Linked DNA regions of Homo sapiens. The protein of the gene in region 2 interacts with the protein of the main gene of each other region in a pairwise test. Each region holds a gene or a part of one and is shown on either strand. Other genes may lie near its edges.

Region 1 (3,836 bases), on a different chromosome or scaffold from region 2:
ATGGATTGTATTCTTCTGGCTTTTTAAAGCAAAATTTTAAAGATATTTATTGTTTATTCTTAGTTGGAAATAGGAAGTTTTTTCCCCAGTGACTTATCCCTTTGGAAATTTTTTAAATTATATGTTTGATACCTCATTGGAACATAAACAATACAATATATTAACACTTCTATTCTGACCTACTGTGTAATTGTTAGAAAGAGGTATAAAATTAATATATTGACCTTTATATTCTGCACAGACCACTCGCTACCTCATTCGAAGGCCGACATGGCAGTGTGCGCTATTGGGTGAAAGCCGAATTGCACAGGCCTTGGCTACTACCAGTAAAATTAAAGAAGGAATTTACAGTCTTTGAGCATATAGATATCAACACTCCTTCATTACTGGTAAGAATTGACTGAATTATTTATTCTTTGTTTTTGGCATATAAATATTAAAGAATAATCAATCACCTAAACTATGCAGTTGTCATAATTTAAAAATACTGGTTTTCTTTTAAAATTTCATAAATATACATTTTCTTAAATACAGTCAAGAACACTGAAATTAATGAAAAATATGCTCATATTTTTGACATTGTAGTATACCTTTAAGTAAATATAAAACTAAGACCAGTATATGATATGAAGTATCTCTTACTCAGAGTATGACAGCCATAACAAAAAACAGATCTGGTCCTTGGATGATTTGAGTGGAAGAAGAGCAGTAGTATCTTTTATTATAATACAATATCACTTACTTGACAATATCATAATCTAAAATTTGTACTATACTTTGTTATTCCAATAGAGGGATAGTTGTCAAATAATGGGGAATCATTAGTTTCATTAAAAAACTCCTTTTTTAAAGAAATCTATTTTTAATTGCATTTGTCTGAAAATAATTCAAATTTGACTTAAAACTTTATTTGATTTAAACAAATGGTAACATCTTTAAAGCACATAAGAAATGGGCATTTTCCTTTTTTACATATTGATTTTTTAATAGTCTCAGAGAAAGATGTTAACATTTGGAATTATAATCAGATTGCTTTCTTTGCTGCCTTTTTAAGGCAGTTTAAATGGAATGTGGAAAGGGTTTTTTTTATTTGGTTGGTTTTTGATTACTATATTTGTAAATAGTGTGAGCTAAAAAACTATGTTTATGGGATAGGCTGTAAACCCTTTACCTTTTTTTTCTAATTGAATGGAAATTTATATGAAAATAAAAGTAATGGTATAATTCAAAACCATCGGTTAGTTAAAAAATAAGAAGTATGTCTGGATACAAAAAAAAAGCAAAACCAGTTGTAATTTTTAATTTTCCATAAATTTAGGGTTATATTTTAAAATATTCTGGTATTGATTGTACCAATCCATACACTGACCTTTTTCTCTTAATTTTTTTCTTACAGTCACCCCAAGCAGGCACAAAAGAAAAGACACTCTGTTGCTGGTTCTGTACCTCAGGCCCAATATCCTTAAGTGCCAAAATTGAAAGGAAGGGCTATACCCCAGGTATGTAAGAGGTAGATTCCCACAAAAAACTTTTCTTCACTTAGCTTTTGTGTTTAAATTTATAATATGACTACTAAATATAAACATAATATAGTATTCTTTTGTGAAATAACAAATTGTGCTTATCCATTTGTTTTTTTCACAAAGTAGAATGTAGTTTCCTTTTTCAAATAGCTACTGATTAGTTCATTTCTATGACTCAAGTTATTTGCAGTTCCTGGGACATCTTTTCATGTATGTTAGTTGCACTTTCTTACTTTAGCTTTAAGAATCTTGACTTCTTTTGTTGTTTTTTTCTAACAGTAGATATGTATATATTTTTCCCTCTCTAGGTGAATCAATTCAGATATTTGCTGAGATTGAGAACTGCTCTTCCCGAATGGTGGTGCCAAAGGCAGCCATTTACCAAACACAGGCCTTCTATGCCAAAGGGAAAATGAAGGAAGTAAAACAGCTTGTGGCTAACTTGCGTGGGGAATCCTTATCATCTGGAAAGACAGAGACGTGGAATGGCAAGTTGCTGAAAATTCCACCAGTTTCTCCCTCTATCCTCGACTGTAGTATAATCCGCGTGGAATATTCACTAATGGTATGTACACATTTAAGAGGTTTTTTCCTTTCTTTTTTCTTTTTTGAAACACCTGTCACCCAGGCTGGAATGCAGTGGCACAGTCTCAGCTCCGCTACAGCCTCTGCTTTCTGGGCTCCAGTGATCCTCCCACCTCAGCTCCCAAGTAGTTGGGACTACAGGTGTGCCTATAGCCATGCCTGGATAATTTTTGTATTTTTTGTAGTGATGGAGTTTGACCATGTCGCCCAGGTTGGTCTTGAACTCCTGGGCTCAAGTGATCCATCCACCATGGCCTCCCAAAATGTTGGAATTATAGGCATGAGCCACAGTGCCTGGCCCAAGAGGTTTTTGGTGTTTTTTTTTGTTTTGTTTTTAAGTCTTAAAGTTATGACATAGTTTTGTCTTACATCCAGGATTTGATTTTTTTAAATTCCATATATAGTGACATATAAAATACATAACTCTTTATATAGTTTGACTTACAATTATACCTTATATGTAAATGTACTATACAGAATTATACATAAAAGAGAAACTTTTCATGTATGTAAGTTTAAAAATGAAGTAAATGGGGGTTTCAAATAACATTAAAATTGGTTATGAGTTTTTGAAAAGGAAATCATACTTGGCATTCTAAACTTAATATTTCTTTGCAATGTTTAGGTATATGTGGATATTCCTGGAGCTATGGATTTATTTCTTAATTTGCCACTTGTCATCGGTACCATTCCTCTACATCCATTTGGTAGCAGAACCTCAAGTGTAAGCAGTCAGTGTAGCATGAATATGAACTGGCTCAGTTTATCACTTCCTGAAAGACCTGAAGGTAATTTGATAATACACGTCTAAGCTTAATCTCTTACTACTATTATCAAGAAAATTATTTTGCCTCTGATATTTTATGACCCTAGATGAACATAATCTTTTCCTAAAGAAAGTAGATGTGCCCCTAATATTCAGTTTTGATTATATGTCTTCATAGTTTTGATCACCAAACAATAATTATTTTACCTTGACGTTGCTTTTTAATACCTACTATTCTGTGTATTTTGACATGCATAAGAACATGCTGTTCGAATTGCGTGTATCTTTTTCCTTCAGCACCACCCAGCTATGCAGAAGTGGTAACAGAGGAACAAAGGCGGAACAATCTTGCACCAGTGAGTGCTTGTGATGACTTTGAGAGAGCCCTTCAAGGACCACTGTTTGCATATATCCAGGAGTTTCGATTCTTGCCTCCACCTCTTTATTCAGAGGTAAGTACCTACTCCTTAAGTATGAAATGAACTGGCTATCTTGGGAAATAGCATTGCAGGCATTTTTTTTTCTTAATGTTATTAGATCTTGATTATCATGTTAACAGAACAAATAATTTAAAACAACAGATTAAAAGTTAATATTAGGTTCATCAATATTTACTAAGTTTGATGCAGAGGTAGGACTGTTCACTTATTAGGGAATTAAGATAATGATCTAACCTCATGTTGAATTACTAATTTTTTTTTCTCTTAAACTTTTATCTTGAGACACATTTTTTGAAGGAAGAATTTTGTATATCCAAGCATCAATAGGAAGAACTAGCATTTTGCAAACACTGATTAAATAGTAGAATTTATCTTATTCATGATGCTTTTCCAATTGCATATTTTGACATTCTCAGTCATAAGAAATAATGTATTTGTGATAACATCTTAAAACAACATTCCCACATGGTTAGACTATTTTCGTTCATCTCATATTGATGGCAGCTAAGCACTTAAATGTAA
Region 2 (5,054 bases):
CATTCACTATGACTGCACACAACCACATGCTGTTCTGGTGCAGGAGACACTGTGGACACCGTGGGGACACACGGGCACCGCTGCCTCCCCCACAACGGGCAAGAGACGCACGTCAGACAGCAGACACCGTGGGGACACACGGGCACCGCTGCTTTCCCCACAATGGGCAAGAGATGCGCGGCAGACACACAGCGCAGCAGACGGCGTTACCACTGCAGGGAGTGACCAGCTAGGAGGACCGGGTATGCGGGCTGCAGGATCTGGAGGAAGAGCTGCAGGAAGCGGGAGGAGAACGGCCAGGGAAGAGGAAGGTCAGGAGTGACTAGGGTGAGGAAAACATGGGCCCAGCTGGAGCAGGCTCGGCAGGACAGTGCCCACGAGAAAGGCCCACGCGGGAACGGACCTACTCTGGCCACGCTGCAGGGGCTGAGCGGGGGCAGTGGGTGGGTGCGGGGGGCTCCAGGCCTGGACGGGCTGAAGGTGGCGCCTGTGCTGAGGGTCAGGCCTGAAGGGCAAGAGGTGGACATGAACCTGGAGCACCAGCAGCACGAGGGCTTTGGGCCTCAGCTTCCAGAGTGTGGGGCAGCCACCTGCGGACACGGGGGAGAAGCCGGGAGGGTGGCCCGAGAGCTCCACCTTGGGCACACGGAGTCCGGAGTGCCCACGGAACACCTGGGGAGGCCATGTGGCCATGGTCCGTACCTAGGGATCTGGGGTGGAGCTGAGTGGTCGGCTCAGGCTGGGGCCAGCACATGGGTGTTTAGACCCACAGGGATGCAGAAGTCACCGGGATGTGTGGGCAGAGAGGGGAGGAGGGCTGAGGACCAGACCCCTTGGCATCCCACTGGGGCCCCAGGAGACAACAAGGGGAAGCAGCGAGGGGACGCAAGCAGGGAACCACCTGTGTGGCCGCCCAGAAGCCAAGAGAAGCAGGAAACAGGGGCTGAGCTACCTGGCCCAGTGAGGAGGCAGGAATGTTTCCCACCACTGGAGCTGCGCCACAGAAGGCTGGGTGAGCTCACGTGGAGGAAACAGGCTGCCTGTGGTGGGCTCCAGGGTGCGGGAGAGGACCAAGGGGGGCCAGAGGCGTGGGCAACGCCAGGGCCACCTCCAAGGCCCAGCCAGCTCTGGAGCTTGAACTGTGTGAGGTGGAGTGCCCTGCGGTCACCAGGCCCTGCCAGGAGGTGGCGGCTGAGGACGGGTGATGGCACTGGCTGGCCTGGTGGCAGCTGGCACAGGAATGCATGGGCTTACGGGAGTTCACTGGGTGGGCAGAGGGATCGGCCACACCAGCACAGTAACAGCTGCACAAGCAAGGGTCTGAGACACGCCGCGAGGAAGGGGTGACGGTGTAGCTGTGCTCACCACACCATGAAGCCCCTGAAAGCAAGTCTTATTTGTGAGGTCCACGGCGATTCTTCTGCCTGCTGTATTTGTGCATTTCTATGAAAGCCGCGTGGCTCACAGTGTGTCTCCTTTCCCTGCATTTCTACGAAAGCCCGCGTGGCTCACAGTGTGTCTCCTTTCCCTGCATTTCTACAAAAGCCCGCATGGCTCAGTGTGTCTCCTTTCCCTGCATTTCTATGAAAGCCGTGTGGCTCACAGTGTGTCTCCTTTCCCTGCATTTCTACGAAAGCCCGCGTGGCTCACAGTGTGTCTCCTTTCCCTGCATTTCTACGAAAGCCCGCGTGGCTCACAGTGTGTCTCCTTTCCCTGCATTTCTACGAAAGCCCGCGTGGCTCACGGTGTGTCTCCTTTCCCTGCATTTCTACGAAAGCCCGCATGGCTCAGTGTGTCTCCTTTCCCTGCATTTCTACGAAAGCCGCGTGGCTCACAGTGTGTCTCCTTTCCCTGCATTTCTACGAAAGCCCGCGTGGCTCACAGTGTGTCTCCTTTCCCTGCATTTCTACGAAAGCCCGCGTGGCTCACGGTGTGTCTCCTTTCCCTGCATTTCTACGAAAGCCCGCGTGGCTCACGGTGTGTCTCCTTTCCCTGCATTTCTACGAAAGCCCGCGTGGCTCACGGTGTGTCTCCTTTCCCTGCATTTCTACGAAAGCCCGCGTGGCTCACGGTGTGTCTCCTTTCCCTGCATTTCTACGAAAGCCCGCGTGGCTCACGGTGTGTCTCCTTTCCCTGCATTTCTACGAAAGCCCGCGTGGCTCACGGTGTGTCTCCTTTTCCTGCATTTCTACGAAAGCCCGCGTGGCTCACGGTGTGTCTCCTTTTCCTGCATTTCTACGAAAGCCCGCGTGGCTCACGGTGTGTCTCCTTTCCCTGCATTTCTACGAAAGCCCGGGTGGCTCACGGTGTGTCTCCTTTCCCTGCATTTCTACGAAAGCCCGCGTGGCTCACGGTGTGTCTCCTTTCCCTGCATTTCTACGAAAGCCCGCGTGGCTCACGGTGTGTCTCCTTTCCCTGCATTTCTACGAAAGCCTGCGTGGCTCACAGTGTGTCTCCTTTCCCTGCATTTCTACGAAAGCCTGCGTGGCTCACAGTGTGTTTCCTTTTCCTGCAGTCTTACAGACGGTTTTCGTGTGATCAAAATCGGCGTTCAATCTGCCGATTTTGGCTTTCACTTGAAAGACCACTAAGCAACCACGGGCCGGCCCCGAGGCTGACCGAGGGCTGCTCTGTGGGGAGGGAGGGTGCAGGCACCGGCACTGAGGCCAACAGGAAGCCACTCACGCAGCACACACCAGGTGGCGGGGGTGCCGGCCGCGCCTCCTCCAGCTGCCGGCGGGGGTCCGGGAGGTGTCCTTGGGCGTACTCAAGCCTGGTGGAAGAGCCAGGCCCTACACAGAGCAGACGCCCACCTACACCCACTACTCATCACTTGAGTTATGTTTGGTAGAACCCGGGGTCAATGCCAATATCTTTCACACAGATCGTTTTCAACATCACACAGGTTTCAGGAAAAGCGGGAATCAGAAGTTCTGTTTGCCCGCTTAGGAAATGCAGTATAAACGCCGAAATCCGAAATCCCACCCCCACCGAGCGCACCAGCCCCAGGCAGGCAGGAGGGTGCCCCAAGGCCCACCTGTACCACCGTGATGTTCAGTCGGCCCACGGTGCCCACTGCGCCTCCGTACTGCAGCTGCTGGGCCGCCTGGGCGTCCAGCTGGACCTGCCGCTGCTGCTGTGTGGGCGTGATGCGGAGGAAGTCCTGCGGGAGCTCACCGATGTACACCTGCGGGGCCGGGGACCAGAGAGGCCAGTGAGTCAGGGTGGGGGCACAAAGCAGCCCGACAGCAGCTGCCCCCGGCATTCCCGCGGCCCCGCCCCCACCCATGTCCTTATCAAGTCCTGGACTGTGCTCAGCCTCAGTTTCCTCATCTCTAAACGGAGGGGTCAAGGGTGTCCAGCCTGGGGCCTGGCCCCCAGCGGTACAGGTGCAGCCCTCACTCAGGAGATCCCCAAATGCAGGTTTCTGCCGCTAAAAATGGGTTCCTGTCCTCAAAGCCTGCTCAGGTGGGTTTTCAGGTCATTTTAAAGGGTCTCCCTTGCACCATGTGTGCCCACGGCTTCTTTCTCCTTGTCCACAGCTAAAGGCAGGGCCACTGAACTGCAGGTCACTTGGTCAAACGAATGAGACAAAAGCTGAGCCTCAGGTCTAAAGTGATTTGGAAAACCCTCTGCTGATATACTTCAAATGTTTCCACATGAAACAGCTGAAATTCAAAAGTATCCCAGAAGAACGCAGGAAGTAAATCGATTCCAAACAACCACGAAAGACCTCCCCACTCTGCATCCTATGTCTCCTCGACCCTCTGTCCACCACTGCCACTTCTGAGGGGAAGAGAGAGGATGGGCCCAGGCAGGACAATGCCATCCCGAAACCACCCGCACACCTGCAGCGGCCGAAGGGGCCTGGGGTAAACCATGCTCCACAGGTGAAAGGTCGCTGATGAGGCCCTGAGCATGGGTCTGGCTGCTGGTGGAGTGGGGTGGAGGCCTGGTTGCTGGAGGAGTGGGGTGGAGGCCTGGTTGCTGGTGGAGTGGGGTGGAGGCCTGGTTGCTGGTGGAGGCCTGGTTGCTGGAGGAGTGGGATGGAGGCCTGGTTGCTGGTGGAGTGGGGTGGAGGCCTGGTTGCTGGTGGAGTGGGGTGGAGGCCTGGTTGCTGGAGGAGTGGGGTGGAGGCCTGGTTGCTGGTGGAGTGGGGTGGAGGCCTGGTTGCTGGTGGAGTGGGGTGGAGGCCTGGTTGATGGAGGAGTGGGGTGGAGGCCTGGTTGCTGGTGGAGTGGGGTGGAGGCCTGGTTGCTGGTGGAGTGGGGTGGAGGCCTGGTTGCTGGTGGAGTGGGGTGGAGGCCTGGTTGCTGGTGGAGTGGGGTGGAGGCCTGGTTGCTGGTGGAGTGGGGTGGAGGCCTGGTTGCTGGTGGAGTGGGGTGGAGGCCTGGTTGCTGGTGGAGTGGGGTGGAGGCCTGGTTGCTGGTGGAGTGGGGTGGAGACCCAGCCGTCTGCAGGGGCCCCGGTCAGCGCCAGTGCCCTGGGCAGTTGTTTTCAGGAAATACCGAGTGGAACCTGGAACCCTCGGTGTGTCGGACGTGAGCTTAGGCAAAGTGCACGTGCTGAGGCCGCCAGAACGCCTCTGCCATGCACACCAGAAACCCGTACCTGCCTGTGCCATGGACTCCCAATGACACGGTGCCAGGCAGGGCTCCAGGAGGTTCTGAGTTAAGCCCTGCACCTGCTGTGCTCTGGGCGCCTGGCACTTCAAAGGACCCCGAGAGGGTCTAGCTCCTCACCTGTGTCCCCATCTAAGGCCTGGAGCGCACAAGCCAGTCAGCGCTCCACAACCAATGTGAGTAAACAGAAGGGACCCGGACGATCCAGGCACCGCTTCGAGCAGTTACGGACTCAGGACCCCCAAGTTCGGGAAGCTCTCTGCAGGCTGCACCCCAACCTGAGCAGCCAGCATGGCGTGTGCTCAACCGCTCTTCTCTAAAAAGCAAAACACACTTTGTGCGTTTCCCCACACTTTACCCCGTTTTTGACTGGGACACGTCACGAGTGACCTTTGCCCTGTGAGAGAAGCCGTACTGCGAGAACAAGCAGAG
Region 3 (3,836 bases), on a different chromosome or scaffold from region 2:
CACCCACCAGCTGGACTGTCCGCACTGGCCAGCTACCAGCTATATCCAGCTCCCTGGGTCCATAGCACAGGGATACAGCAATGCCTCTGGGGTGGTCCTCTAAAAATATACAAGCACACCCCACTGTCTCCAATCCTTTTCAGTCTCCATTTTGTGACTCAAGAAGAGGGTCCTATGCTTTACAAAAGGGCAGCTCTCCAAACAGCTTAATCTGAATGATTTCCAAGGCCTCCATCTGTGGAACATGTTTCCCTCAGAAAAGAAGTCAACAGGTACCAGGGAACCTAGTGTTCCTGAGCAATCCTGGTTGCAGGCAAGGTCTACTTTGGAGTACCAGAGCCTATGCAAAACAACCCTGGGCAAAGACAGCTGGGGCTAGGTTCCCCAATGTCCAGGCATGGTTCCAGCTGCATGTGGACACACAGATCTGCAAAGATGCACTGCCCACCCCAATAGAAATGAAGGGCTTCTCTGAGGAATCACAACTTACCACTCCAAGAGTGAAGTAGTTAAAAAAGTAGTCATTACACTTCGATGGAACTTGTTTATGAGGGGAAGGAGAATGAATTTTCATCTGTAGGGAAAAAATAACCATAAATTAAAATCCATCCCTCTAATATAGTTCTGGATTAACTGAAAGTCTACAAATTGTGTTCCATGTGTAACATTAAGCTGCGGAACAAGCAAGAGTGGGGAGTCTCAGCTGCTGGTGCTGACCAATCTAGGAGGAGAGGGGGCCAGCTGTCGTTGACTAGGGACTGTCTTGGTCTCTAAGGAAAGGTAGGCACTATGGAGAGGGACAGAGTCAGGGTAATTGGACTACAGGGGTTAGAAAACAGTTTTCAATTTACTTTACCATTAGCTTTACTTAGAACAAGTTCTATGGGAAAATAGCAAACAGTTTATACTCAATATTAAATTAGTGTTGATTAAAAAAAAGGAGGAGACTGCAACATAATTCCCCTACCTTGTCTTCTGATTTATAGAAGACTTTGTGTGGAGAGCCAAGCATGCTAAGAACATCTTGGCAGGAATCACCAAAATACACTGAACGTTCAAATACCCGCATCTTGGCATCTGCTAATAGGCCAGGTCCACAACCTGCAAAAAACAAGACAGAGAGGTTGTCAGGTTATGGTTAGGACCAGAGACCCTCTCTGGGGGCCCCAGAGAAGCTACTGGCTGCATGCTACATTATTAGGTCTGGCAAGGGGCAAGACTGCATGCAATCAGAAACATCAGGTCACCAGGGCTTAAGACTGTACAAGAGATCGCTATTCAAAATAATGCCAGGGACTTATTCAATCCCCCACATGTGACATGAAGCTCTGGATACTTCATTCACTTATTCATTCACTACTTTATTGCCTACCATGGGCTAGGACATTGTGCTAGATGTTGAAGAAACAAAAGTGAACAAAAACAGTGCAGTTTCTGGCCAGACGTGGTGGCTCACGCCTATAATCCCAGCACTTTGGGAGGCCAAGGCGGATGGGTTGTTTGAGCTCAGAGTTTGACACCAGCCTGGGCAACATGGTGATACTCCGTCTCTACAAAAACATACAAAAATTAGCTGGGCATGGTGGTGGGTGTCTGTAGTCCCATCTACTTGGAAGGGTGAGGTGGGAGGATCACTTGAGCCCAGGAGGCAGAGGTTGCAGTGAGCCAAGATCACACCACTGCACTCTAGCCTGGGTGACAGACTGAGACAGTCTCAAAAAAAAAAAAAAAAAAAAAAAAAGGCAGTGCTGTTTTTTCTCCATAAGCTCCATCACTGGAGCTTATGTGTGCTGGAGAAGACCTTAATCAGATCATCACACAACTATGGTAAGATGCAAGGATTTATGTTAAGAGGTACTTCTTGGCCGGGTGTGGTGGCTCTTGCCTATGATCCCAGCACTTTGGGAGGCCAAGCGGGGTGAACTGCTTGAGCTCAGGCGTTCAAGACCAGCCTGGGCAACATGGTGAAACCCTGGCTCTACAAAATATAATATAAAAATTAGCCAGGCGTGGTGGCACACTCCTGCAGTCCTAGCTACTTGGGAGGCTAAGGTGGGAGGATCACTTGAGCCCAGGAGGCAGAGACTGCAGTGAGCTAAGATCACACCACTGCATTCCAGCCTGGGTGACAGAGTGAGACACTGTCTTAAAAAAAAACTACAAAAGTACTCTCAATGGTAACCCCTAACCAGAGACACTGAACCTGTAAAACTGCTCTATCAACAAGTAGAGTGAAGCATGCATTACTTGTCTCCCTAATTCTACACAAACACCTGACAGAGCCCTCCAACCCAGACAAGAGCCATTATCACTCAAAAGGGACAAACCAGCTAAGTGGAGGAATAAAAGACCTTCTGATTTGCCAAAAGTTTATTCTTTGGGAAGAATCTTTAAGCTCTGACTTTTTCTAATAAAACATTTCAGAAATGATTACAGTTAATGACACACACACAAACACACAAATGTAGAAGTGGTTGTGGCACAGTAATAGATACACCAACAGTAAAAATTTCCCCATTTTGTGGAGGGGGAGACAAGGTTTTTGCTCCCACCACCCAGCAAAAAAAAAAAGGAAGCCAAGAATCTGAGAAGGATTGTAATTCTTGGTGCCATGATAATCACTGACACCATCTTACTCAGCACAAGGCTTTACAGTTGTCAAAGTTCTCTCATGTGTAACAATCCATTTTTTATATGCAGAAGCTTCAGAGAACCCAAATCTGAAATAACTAAATACTGAGTTCAACTAACCCAAGAATCTCTATTCTCAGCAAGTATACACTGAGGGGGAAATAAAGGCTTAGGCAAGCCTTGGGTGACCTATAGAACCCACCAAAAGTCCTGTCAAGCTGGACTCTGGGCCCAAAGTATCCAGTGGCCTAACACATTTCTTCAGGCACCAGATACGTGTGGATGTCAGATGGGGGCTGTAAGGAAGGCACCCTTCAAAGGTAAGTCTTCTGTCTCCCTCTGCTTGAAGTATATCCAGGTATAATTACTAAGAGTTTCAGCTACTTTTTAGATTGTGATTCCCCAAAGTGTATCTTTCTACAAATTATTGTGGAGACCAGATGGCTGAACTGACTCCCTGCATTAAAAGCATCACTGCAGCCATATTCCATAAGGAAGGATATGAGAAATGAGTGGGTTGAGAAACTTGTGCTTGCCACAGGAAACTCTCAGTGAAGACGATAACCCTTTGAGGCCCTGACTTAACAAATCATTTGCCCTGCTGACAGTGTAAGCAGTGAGCAGTGTGACTGCTGGGAATGTGCTGTACAAGGTGGCAGACATAATTGGCTGAGAGCCCACCCTCGACAGGCTCCTCCTGCTGTCTCCTGGGATGATTAATGACCCTGATCCTTGACCACCCTGCTGTTTCAAGCAGTGATCCTCTTGGGAAAAAACCACACTAAATCACTTGACTTTGCTGCCACATCTCAATTCTCTCAAAAACTATAGCTCAGGCTGGGTGCGGTGGCTCACACCTGTAATCCCAGCACTTTGGGAGGTTGAGGCGGGCGGATCACTTGATGTCAGGAGTTTGAGACCAGCCTGGTCAATATGGTGAAACCCCATCTCTACTAAAAATACAGAAATTAGCCTGGCGTGGTGGCACACGTCTGTAATCCCAGATACTTGGGAGGCTGAGGCATGAGAATCGCTTTAACCCAGGAGGCAGAGGTTGCAGTGAGCTGAGATCACACCACTGCACTCTAGCCTGGACAACACAGCAAGACTCTGTCAAAAAACAACAACAACAAAAAACCCCAAAACCATAGCTTAAGCATGACACTCCTTTAAGTGGTTGTTCTGTCTTGGCTAGAAAATCACAT
Region 4 (3,836 bases), on a different chromosome or scaffold from region 2:
TATCCCAATGTCCCCTTGAGCTCCAGCCCAAATACCCAGGTACTTACTTGACCTTTCTTGATTCCCAGATATCTTAACACATCTGGAGTCATACTCTATTACCTTCCTCCTCAAATTCTGTTCTTCCTATACATTCCCTATCTTAAAGGCATCATCATCACCCAATAACCACACTATAATCTTTAACTCTTTACTCAATTGTCACTCAAATCTGACAACTGTGAAGTAAAAATTATCCCCAGAATCGATGTCCTTTTACATCACAATTCAATACTCTCACAAGTCTCTAGTCAAATCTTTACATGTCATCTTTTTAAAAACCATAGTGGATGTCCTACTCAAACCTCTTATGGTCCCTAAATGCCTATAGAATAAAGTTCACACTCATGAGCATGGAATTACAAACTCTTCCCAATATGGCCACAACCTTATCAGTTTCACTTTCCACTATTCTCCAAGTCGAGCAAAATCCACTTGCTAGTTCTCAAATCAGACTACTGATGCCCTTCCTCTCAGCCCCTCTTCTCCATCAGTAATGCAGCTACTCCCCCTTCCAAGTCCTACTCAAACTTCCCCTATGTGAAAAGTCTTCCCTAACCTCACTTTTCTCTGTGTATCATTCTCCTCTCCCTAGAAGGAATTTCTCCCTCCTCCTATAATCCCACACCACTCTTTGTTTGCTCTATTTTGGTTCTCTAGAAGTTGTAACATAGCTAGTTGAGCCCATACCTTTCTGCTCTACACGACAAGGCCCAAGATTTGTTACTCTAGCACCTAGTACATGCCCAGAATGTGGTATATCTTTAATCATCGTCAGGTGAATGAATGAGTGGCAAAACTCCAAAGTGAGAATACACTTAAGGAGGTTATTTCTTAATGGAGAGAATGCTTCACTCTCCTTTGAACATAAAACAAGAATCAGGTCCCCTAGTCCCCAACTCCCCATTTCTAGTCCACTGCGCAAACAGTTTTAAGCAATGTTTCATTGGGACATTTCCTCATTTCCCCTTGTTCTTTGTAGGTTTAGCTGCCAGCCTAACCACATTAGCATTCAGTAGCAGCAACAAAACGGACTCTTAAAGTTCTAAAAAGCAAAAACTTTACAATTACCAACAGTAAAATACATGCTCTTTTTAAAAAAAACTGTCTTAATATATATGCATACAAAGCTCATTCTTCATGAAGATTCAGAAAATGGCTTGGCATAGTTTATCCCAACAGGCACCACTTAAAGAGTTCTTAAGAAAATGTCCACTTAAGCCATCAGCCAAACTTTTCACATTTGTTACCACAGAAATCAGCATGCATGAATTAATCGAAATACAATGCATATTAAACAATGCAATTACTATAGTCTAAATCACCAAACTGATAACCCATACAAAAGTAGCTCTTACAACTTTTTTTGAGAATATTTCCCCTAAAAAATTCCAGTGATCATCCCAACCTACAAAACTAGATTATTTTACTAGTATCATCTTCTCTTTACCCCTCTTCTCCCCACCAACACTCCCTCCAACACACACACACTTCTCCTTAAGAGAAACGGCTTCCTCAAGAAATTATCTGATGGTTCAGTAGCAGTTGGAGTTTTACACAAACTATGTTGTGATTGGGCAAGGCAGACTACCAGATCTGGGATTCAGTAGACCATTCCTTACTGTCAGATTATCTTCTAAGTGACTGCTCTTAGAGAAACAACACAGATTTGCCTCAAGAGATTACAAATGTGGTAGGCCTACCTTAACAGCAACTAGTTTTTTTTAAGAAACACGGTCGCACTGTCGCCCAGGCAGGAACACAATGGCATGATTATGCTCACTGCAACCTCAAACTCCTAAGTTCAAGTGATCCTCCTGCCTCAGCCTCCTGAATAGCTCAAACTATAGGCATATGCCACCATACCCAGCTAGTTTTTCGTTTTTTTGTTTTTTTAAATATTCTGTAAAGACAGGATGTCACTACATTGCCCAGGCTGGTCTAGAATTCCTAGCCTCAAGCAATCTTCCTGCCTTGGCCTCCCAAAGTGCTGGGATTATAGGCATGAACCACCATAACCAGCCATTGTTTTCTAATATACTAGAACATCTCTGTAAAGTTTTATTTCTAGCCCTTCTTTGGGTCATAGAAAGTTTACTTGGTATCACATAAATGTTCACATTTTAAAACATTTTAGGCCTAAAGACCACAACATGATGAAGCCTTTTGGATGTTTTGCTAACTACACTGCATTAAGTTGGGCTGAAAATACATTAGCCCAATTCTGAAGTGCACTTTTGAAAAAATAAAAAATATATATATGTGTGTGTGTATATATATATATTCTAAGGTATAAGCAATCCACTTATTTTTCTTGAGCAGTCAAAAATTCCTTTCCCAAGTTTTGTCCATATTGCACTAAAATAACTTCAAACAAAGCATTGTTGTTGCTTGAGGATTAAAAGTTTCCAATAGCTCAATATGGTTTTAATCTCCTGGAAACACCTGAAATTCATTTGTTTCACCTCCTTTTACTATTTATCTTCCAGTCTGTTTACCTTAGTAGAAAACTGATGGATAAAAGTACTAACTGAAAACCCAAGAAAGTGGGTAATCCACCCTCTAGTTAATAAGGAAGGAAATATGATACACAAGGCACAAAAATTAACATGTATCTTGAGACTCAAAAAACATTGGACTTGGTCTAAATAAAATGTTTCTAAAATAACAAGTGGATTCCTTTTTCATTGCTGTTTTACTAAGCATTCATGGAAAATTATATTTGGGTAAGCTCAGGCTGAAAACACTAGCTTTAGCTATCAAGGAAAACATGAAAGAACATAAAGAAAATGTATTTTAGTATAGAACATTTCCTGAAATGTTTTTTACAAAATCAAAGATTTGCATTTTAAGATTGATTTTCCAAATACTCTATATATACATATTAATAAGCATCACACAGTCACACACAAACATCTAAATTCAGATATCCCATTTCCTAGATGATTACTGGCCCAGAAAGGGCGCATCTAAACTCTTGAGGTTAAAGTAGACATTTGTGAAATTCAACAGCCCAGGGAGTTTCCCCTCACCCTTCAATTTTTCACAGTGGCACTGTGTGAATGAATAAGCCTGCTTCAGCATGAAGCAACAGGCTTGTCTAAAGACATCTGACAGAAGCTGAATGTATACATTAACTTCCTGTTGAGGTAGGACTGTAGACTGTTTCTAAAGACTGACAGTTCATAGTTCCTCCAGAAACCAAAAAATCAGCATGCCTTTTCAAATACTCAGGGAAAAATTTTAATTTCAGTAATTACTGTTCATTGTTATTATTCTTCAACTTTACTGAATGCCTTATTCCATACAAGAAAAGGCATAAAAATTTAATCCCAGACCACAGGAGCTTAAATTTCCCTTAAAACAAGTCACTCATTCGTGATTATTTACATAAAATGCTTCTAAAGACAACCCAGAGATTTGGTTGAACCTACAGTGTGCAGGCAATGCAAATTCAGGTATTTAAATCATGGGAAGTTGGCCTTCGGTTCCCTAACAAAATTAGACAAGTGCATAATTATCGTTTAATAAAACAAAAAACCTACAATTTGGGGTCCTAACGACATACACAGGAATTCAGAAGGAAACCTGAAATCCTTTCTCCTTTAAACCTTCTATATCTGGACAAGGGCCCTCATTATCTTCTACTTCTATAGCTCCTTCTCTTAACACAGGAGCTAAATTTCCTTGAAACATGTTATGAAGCCACTGCCAGCACGGTGGCACTTGCCTATAGTCTCAGCTACTGGGGAGGCTGAGGTGGGTGCATTCCTTGAGCCCAGGAGTTCAAGGCCAGC

Evidence for each region. Proteins that work in one complex are often made in the same cells at the same time.
Region 1: the proteins of TOLLIP (region 2) and ARRDC3 interact in binary tests that used the Homo sapiens proteins (3 or more experiments, as listed by UniProt).
Region 3: the proteins of TOLLIP (region 2) and PHAF1 interact in binary tests that used the Homo sapiens proteins (3 or more experiments, as listed by UniProt).
Region 4: the proteins of TOLLIP (region 2) and NRF1 interact in binary tests that used the Homo sapiens proteins (3 or more experiments, as listed by UniProt).

What each region holds. Positions count from the first base shown.
Region 1 is NC_000005.10:91,373,174-91,377,009, reverse strand, and holds part of ARRDC3 (arrestin domain-containing protein 3), read left to right. Parts: intron 1-241; coding exon 242-389; intron 390-1,396; coding exon 1,397-1,499; intron 1,500-1,831; coding exon 1,832-2,088; intron 2,089-2,733; coding exon 2,734-2,896; intron 2,897-3,133; exon of another isoform or gene 3,134-3,171; coding exon 3,172-3,326; intron 3,327-3,836. UniProt on the Homo sapiens protein: Adapter protein that plays a role in regulating cell-surface expression of adrenergic receptors and probably also other G protein-coupled receptors.
Region 2 is NC_000011.10:1,292,608-1,297,661, forward strand, and holds part of TOLLIP (toll-interacting protein), read right to left. Parts: exon of another isoform or gene 3,921-5,054; coding exon of another isoform or gene 3,849-3,920; intron 3,188-3,848; coding exon 3,038-3,187; intron 1-3,037. UniProt on the Homo sapiens protein: Component of the signaling pathway of IL-1 and Toll-like receptors. Inhibits cell activation by microbial products. Recruits IRAK1 to the IL-1 receptor complex. Inhibits IRAK1 phosphorylation and kinase activity.
Region 3 is NC_000016.10:67,137,249-67,141,084, reverse strand, and holds part of PHAF1 (phagosome assembly factor 1), read right to left. Parts: intron 1,102-3,836; coding exon 968-1,101; intron 575-967; coding exon 491-574; intron 1-490. UniProt on the Homo sapiens protein: Plays a regulatory role in autophagic activity. In complex with BCAS3, associates with the autophagosome formation site during both non-selective and selective autophagy.
Region 4 is NC_000007.14:129,614,528-129,618,363, reverse strand, and holds part of NRF1 (nuclear respiratory factor 1), read right to left. Parts: intron 1-3,836. UniProt on the Homo sapiens protein: Transcription factor that activates the expression of the EIF2S1 (EIF2-alpha) gene. Links the transcriptional modulation of key metabolic genes to cellular growth and development.